Homo sapiens: one gene and its partner. The protein of the gene in region 2 interacts with the protein of the main gene of each other region in a pairwise test. Each region holds a gene or a part of one and is shown on either strand. Other genes may lie near its edges.

What was found. The genes of interacting proteins can lie anywhere in the genome.
Region 1: the proteins of ATP13A2 (region 2) and AAK1 interact in a two-hybrid assay, tested with the Homo sapiens proteins (one study listed by BioGRID and IntAct).

The regions. Positions count from the first base shown.
Region 1 is NC_000002.12:69,637,131-69,640,883, forward strand, and holds part of AAK1 (AP2-associated protein kinase 1), read right to left. Parts: intron 1-3,753.
Region 2 is NC_000001.11:17,010,120-17,013,872, forward strand, and holds the start of ATP13A2 (polyamine-transporting ATPase 13A2), read right to left. Parts: upstream 1,810-3,753; 5' UTR 1,620-1,809; coding exon 1,610-1,619; intron 1-1,609. UniProt on the Homo sapiens protein: ATPase which acts as a lysosomal polyamine exporter with high affinity for spermine. Also stimulates cellular uptake of polyamines and protects against polyamine toxicity.

The DNA.
Region 1 (3,753 bases), on a different chromosome or scaffold from region 2:
TTGTGTCTTTGGCCATGTTATTCTCTCTGCCTAGAATGTTCTTCTACCTTGTCCATCTAGCAATAAGTTCTCATTTTTGAAGACACACCTCAAATGTCACCTTTCTTTAGCTTTCCCTGACTACTCCCCAACCCACAAAATTGTTGCCTTGGGTCTGTTCCCCAGCTCTTTTACATGACTCCAGCGCAGCATCTGCAGCTATTTGCTCACATATCTGAAATCCTATGACTGTGAGGTCCTCAAGGCACAGCCATGTCTCATTTATCTCCGCATGATGCCTGGCACATAATGAATGCTCAGTAACATTTACTGAATAAGGGAGTGAATGAACTGACAAACCTTGATCTCCCAATTCATAATGCAGTGTTCTTTCCACCACACCAAAATATGGCTCCATAAAATAGACCGGAGGCAAGTCTCTGCTAGCTCACAGTGCTAGATGCTACTTTAATAGACAATACGTTTCTATTATTATCATTTTTTTCTCTTTCAGATGCGGATGTCACAGTTACCTCATAAGTAGGCTCAGAAGGCATGCATCCTTGAAAGGGTGCAAGATGAAGGTGGTACTAGTCCCCTTTCCGAAGCGTCAACATTCAAATATTGCAAGTTAAAATGACGGCTCTGATGCAGTAATATTTTTTGTGTGTTTTGTTAATATTTATCAAACCTTTCTTGTGTACTCTACATGGCGTTTTAGCTACCAGGGTACAAGTGTATGTCTCCCCTCATACCCTCCCACTCAAAAGTCACGTGAAACTGCTGCTCTCTCTTCATCATTATTTGTTATTAAATGAGCTTTACTTTGTTAGAAAGACTGAAAGAAAGAGTTTGACCATGGCAATTGCTTATTCTGGACTTCATTTCTGAATTCTAGATTTGGCTATATTTAGCAAAGCTACAACCGTCATCATGCCCAAAGCCAGGAAGAAGACACCATTCACAAACCACCCCCTGAAAATCTGCAGTTGCCTCTAAAAAACCAGACTTCCCAGCAGGCAAAGACATCTGAAGTGGGAGGGATCAAATTGGTGTTTGCGTCAAGAGAAGGTCTCAGGTGCTTATAACTAAATCTCTCTGCCTGGCACTCAAGATTCTCCATAAAATTAGTCCTTCCTTTTCTCTCCAATGTACCTTCTGCTCTGGTCAAACACCTTCAATATCTCCCCTGTTCATACCTTTCGGTAACACTGGTCATTTCCCTTCCCTGCCTGCTTTTGCTTAAGCTTCTAGCCTCTTATCAAACCTTCTGGGACCACTCTTTCCCCAGACACTCGCTGCTCCCTTTCCCCACAATTGGCACGGGGCTGAGGCACAGGAGGGGAGCCGTGCATTCTTGGTACCTATTCATCAGTCTTTCAAAAGGCCCAGGGCCACTGAAGAAAGTGAGTAGCAAGCACCTCCAGGGAGCAACTTAAAGAATTTCATTCTACCACTCCGTGTCCTCTGTCCTTCTTTCCTTGATTCTGGGGAGGAAATGTGTACTGATGAAAATGGTAACACTAAACTAGTCAGTATTCTCAAAATTTATCATGCTGTTTCACCACTTTGCCTATACTATTCTCTCAGCCTGAGAGGTCCTGAGTAACCCCCATCTGGAACATCTGCTGGGCAATTTCTATTCCTGTTCAAACTTCATGTCACCTATGAACTCTCACCCCCAGGCTCTTTATCATAACATCTTTTACCATCTAAGGTATGTATGTCAAAGGCCACGCTTAAGTGCTGGACACTTATCTCAGGTGTTGAGCTCTGTTAAGAGTCAGGCCTGTGTCCCATTCATCTTAGGATCTCTGGAACCTAATACAGTGCCTGCCACAAAGAGGCACGTACGTGTATCATATTGATACCACCAACATATTATGTGCCTTTAATGGAATTTTTGGTGATTTCACACACATTTTTAAGCCTTACTAGTTTGCTCTGTAGGTAGGAGAAATTATCAAAGTTTACTGATGTGGACATTTGGTACTTCTCATCAGCCTTGGACCTGGATTCCTTGAATATAAATTAGAAAGCTGTTCTGAGGAGCCATCTAGTCCACCTTATAGTTCCAGAATGTTGTCTTCAACACAGTAATAAATAAACATTTATTGTTTAAAGCTTAGATATAAGTCCTCGTATAGCTAAGGAAGTATGATAAAAGCACAGCTTCTCAATCCTTCTTTGAACATTGCTCCAATTTTCCCATTGAGCTCATTCTGGAAGCTTAAACCAAATCTTCCCTTGATATCATATGCCCATTAACTTAGACATGATTTAGCTTCTCATCATGGCATCTTTGCTGAGAAAGCTAGAAAGAAAATATTCTCCCTGGCACCCAGCCTAGAAATAGCCATATTCCTCTAAACTCATAACTTAAAGCCTTCACTTCCCCCAAACAGCCCCTGCTGGACTAGTTAGTGAAACCAGGCCAGGAAGGCTGATGCTACCAGGGGAGGTATGGCAGTGCGACATCTTTTTGTCTTACCCAGCACCTGCTCCTTGGGGTTCTTGCAATTCCTTATGAAAAAGCACAGACCAATACCCACGCTAGAGAAAAAGAGATCATCAGCGGAATGTGGTGGTAATCTGGTCTGTGTTTTGAAGCCTCTCACACCACTCCTCCCTAAACTGCCTAGCCACCGCTCTGGGCACACAGGGTACAACTCCTGTGGTCCTTAAACAACTCTGGCTAGAACTGTAGATAAGTCAGCACTCGGGGACTCACAGAGAAGAGAGTCCAGGGAAGGAGCATGGCTACCCAAAACGTCTGTTAAGCCTTTAAGGAGCTGGTGAGGACTCTGCAAAGAACATCTGGCTCTGTCCCCTAACAATGGGGGAAAGGAATTGCTTCAGATTGCTGCAGCTCAACTAGCTTTCACATTGCTCCCACTCCCCTTTAACACACACACACACACACACACACACACACACACACACACTCTCTCTCTCTCTCTCTCTCTCTCTCCCCCCCCACATATATACATATGATGTATAACGTTGCTGGTAAGTAATGGCTACCATTTATTGAACACCTGAAAATGTTAATTATATATATTGCCTCATTTAATCTTCATGACCAGCCCATTAAGCAGTGGTTCTCAAACTTGACCTTGCGTCAGAATCTCTCCAGGAACTTATTAAGCCCCACACCCACAGCCTACAGAGTGAGGCCTGAGAATCTCCATTTCCAACAAGCTCGCAGGTGATAAGTATGCCCCACTTTGAGAACCACTGCCACAGGGAAACAGAGATTCAAGAGTGGTTTGGAATGTCTTGCCTACAGTTCCACAGCTAGTAAAGAACAGATCCAGAATTTGAACCTAGATCTGTCTGACTCTACAGACAGTGCTGGTAACCATGCTACTGTATGTGTGAATGTATGCCTCATCTTCCCAAATTCATTGGCAGATCCTTAAAGGCAGATGTCAATCACACTATAGACCTCCCTCATCCATCTCAGAACTTCATAGGGTCTTTGGACTTGGTAGGTGCTACATAAATACTTTGTATACTGGCTCCTACATATCTACATACTTCTAAGAGCCACAAATTCAAACTCAACTTAAGCCAAAGAACACAAAAAGGGCGCATAGCCAGACCCAGTTTTACGTGACATTCTCTCTCGCTACTCTGTCTTTGCCCATGGTGCCACCACACTAACTCCTACTCACTCTTCAGTCACTTCCTTCAGAAATCCTGGGCTCCCTAAAACTGGGGGCCACTGCACCCTAAGTTTATCTCTATGATGGCATTTACCAATCCACTATA
Region 2 (3,753 bases):
CAGGCTGGAGTGCAGTGGAGAGATCTCAGCTCACTGCACCCTCCACCTCCCAGGTTCAAGCAATTCTCCTGCCTCAGTTCCTGAAGTAGCTGAGACTACAGGCACATGCCACCACACTCAGCTAATTTTTGTATTTTTAGTAGAGACGGGGTTTCCCCATGTTGGCCAGACTGGTCTTGAACTCCTGACCTCAAGTAATCCGCCTGCCTCAGGCTCCCAAAGTGCTGGGATTACAGGCGTGAGCCACCACGCCTGGCCTGTCATTGCTCTTCTGATGAACAGCAGCTCCCATGGAGTGCTCACCATGCCCTGCGGAAGCCCTTCAGTGTGCTAACTCAATGAAGCTTCACACACAACCCTCTGGGGTAGTGACTATTATTATCCCCATTGTACACCTGGGGAAACTGAGGAACAGCATGTGAATCCCTTGTCCAGGGTCATAGAGCTTGAAAGGGGAGAAGCTGGAAATGAGTGTGTCTGAATGGGCACATTCTTTCCCACAGCCATTCCATGAAAAGTACAGATTAGGATTCCCATTTAAAACGAGGCCCAGAGGAGTAGATTGACAAGCACAAAGTCACACAGCTATGAGGGGCCAAGACTGGACTTGAACCTCGTCTGAGGTCACAGCTCGGGGCAGTGTCACCAGCACTGTGGATCAGAGGGGCTAGAGCCATTTGGGACCTCTTATTTCCTGCGGAAGCCTTGGCTTCCTGCTGGTGACCTGGCAGCGGCCCAGGGCGGCTGCCTCCTCCCTGGCTGTGGTTCCCGGCGGCGGGGAGCTCCTGTCTTCTGCCAGGCTGAGGCGGGAGTGTGTGTGAACCATCTTCCCATCTTTGGATCTGGATTCTAGGGGCTGTCTTTCCTCATTCCTTCCCCTCCCTCGCCGGGGGGTGCACTCTAGGCTGTGGGGCTGGGGGCTGAGTGACAGACACTGAGATGAGACCTTTCTGGATAGGGGAGGAGGACTGGCCCCATTCCCGGCAGGTGGGATTTAAATTAGACCCTGGAGGAGTGGGCGTAGGACATCTGGCCAGGGATGGGTTGCATGGAGGGTGTGGCCCTTGGCCCTGGGTGTGACGGGTTTTCTCTGGGGTCTGAGGCAGGAGGTCAGGAGTGGCGCTGTGGCCCAGGACATCTACCCAGGAAATGGAGTCCCGACTCCCCCAACGCCATTCATTCATTCATTCAGCCCAGAGGGGTTGCCCAGAGGCCCGAGGATGCAGCCGTCTCCCCCACCTGGACATCCGTCACTCGGGGTGGGATCCGATTAAGTGGGCGTGGGGTGGCCTCCCCGTCCCCGCACGGCCCCAGGACCCTCTTGCACAAGCGCCCGGCTTCCAATCCCGCGGCTGAGGGGTGCAGGGGAGGGGAGGGACCGGCTGCGAGCGGCGGCGCCATCCCCAGCCCCGGCGTCTCTGGGAAGAAACCGGGGCCGAGTCCCCGTCAAAAGGGAGGGGACGGGCCAGGATCCCCAACCAGGTCCCGCTTCCTGGGCTCGCGACCCCGCGGTGGGGGGCGTCGCCTCCCCTCTCCCTCCAAGGGGTGACGACAACTGGCGGGCCGGGGACCGCGCCGGGCTCGGGGCCGACCCGGACTCCGCACTCACCTGCGCTCATGCCGGCTCCTCGCGCTCATCGCCGGCCCCGGCGCTGCGGCCCTCGGCCTGGGCCCCGGCGTGCGCAAGGCCCTGGGCGGGGGCGCGGTCCGGACGGCCCGGGGCGAGGGGCGCTGGGCTAGCGCGGGGCTGGAGCAGGGCTGACGCGGGCGGGGCACCTGGGCCACCAGGCTCGGCGCGGCTCCGACACTGCCGCAGTCCCTCCGTGCGCGCCGCAAGCCCCGCCCGGCCCTCTGCGGCCCTCGCAGCGCCCGCGCCGGGGCTGCCGGGACTTGTAGTCCCCGCCTGCTCCTCCGCACACACCGGGGGCGGGGCGACCGGAGACACACACCTCACGGAGGTAGCCCCCGCCAGCACGTCCCAGTGGTTAGGGACTGTGCGTGCTGGTCCAGCTCTCCATGTCTTCCAGGCCGCGCGACCGTGAGCAAGTCACTGATCCTCTCTGGCCCTCTTTTCCCAACCTGTAGGATAGCAATGCCTGCTTCACAGAGAACTGCTGCGAGGATCACACAAGAAAATGCTTGTCAACTGGGCGTGGTGGCGCATGCCTGTAATCCCAGCTACTCGGAGACTAAGCCAGGAGAATCGCTTGAACCCAGGAGGCGGAGGTTGCTGTGAGCCGGGATCATGCCATTGCACTCCAGCATGGGCAAAAAGAGCGAAACTCTGTCTCAAAAAAAAAAAAAAAAGAAAATGCGTATCAAGCACTTGAGACAGTGCCTGGCGCTGCTTGATGAATGCAAAGAAGGAAGACACACCTGCCCAGAGATTCACAGGGTCAGATGTGGGCCCACAGAGACCCAGGGAGAGTCTGCCATGATGCACTGGAGGCCTTGAAATGCCAGAGAAAGAGAAGCCTCACAGCGTGACCTGCAGACACACCTGCACTGGGGGGATTCATGAAGACCCCTGAAAGGCACCAGAGATGTCTTACCTGCGTGCAGCATTTATCCTGCTACCCCATAGTGACCGGCACAGGCATAGTGTTCCCTGTCTCCAGGACCTCTGGACAGAGGAGCTCCAAAGGGGAGAGTGGATCTGTGAGATCCTAGGGCAAACAAGGGAAGGTTCACGTTAGGGCCAAGGATAGACGTGGGCAGGATCACTGGTCATTTGTCCAGTATGAATTTATGGAGTGCCAGCACCACTGTGGGAGCCAGGAACGTGAGAGTGAACAAAACAGAGATGCCCCTGTCCCTGCGGAGACTGCTGTCTACTGGGAAGTAGCCCTAGTCAAGGAAAGGAAAACTCCAACGATCCCTATTGTGGAAGGGGCTGGAAGGAGACACAGCTGTGATGGTGGTGAGGGTGTGGGTAGGGGATAGACCCCAGGAGGGAAAGCAGCACCTGATTCATAGCAAGATCCCAGTGAACATTTGGTACAGGAACACACGTTGGCAGGACTTGCTGGTGGATAGGATGTGGGGGTGCAGGAATGTGTGGAATTCAAGATGCTCCCCAGGGTTTTGGCCTGAGCAGCTGGGTGCCAGTGGAGCCATTTACTCAGCTGGGGCAGGCTGCCCGAGCCAACCAGTTGCGGGTCATTCCTGTTGACCACCTGGGCCATGGGACTGGCTTCCTTGGGTCAGGTGACAAGAGTTCTTTCATCTTCCGGTGACACTTCCAGGGGAGGCAGGCTGCTTAACTTTTCAGAACTCCCATGTCCTCCCCCAGGGCTTAGCTCAATTTCTGGCAGGAACCCAGCCTCCAGGGCAGCAGGAAGGCTGGGTTTGGAAATGGCTAGCCCAGGTGGCCTTGGCAAGAGGCAGTATGGTACAGTGGCAAGGGGCTGGGTTCTGGCATCAGAAAGACATGGATGCATGAGTTGCTTTCTAGCTGTGTGAGCTTTAAAATGTCACTTTCCTTCTCTAAGGCTCTCCTTCCCCTCACCTACAAAATGGAAGGCATGGAGAGGATGAAATGAGATGGCAGGAACTTGGTAGAAGCCAGCTGCTTGCTTTAGATCCTGGCACTGGATTAGCGGCTTCATAAAAGCAGAGGTACTCCAGTCTGGGTGAAAGACTGAGACTCCCTCTAAAATAAATAAATAAATAAATAAATAAATAAATAAATAAATAAAAGCAGAGGGCTTGGGGACTGCATGGGGGACTGCCTTGCAAGGGTGCCCCCTTCAT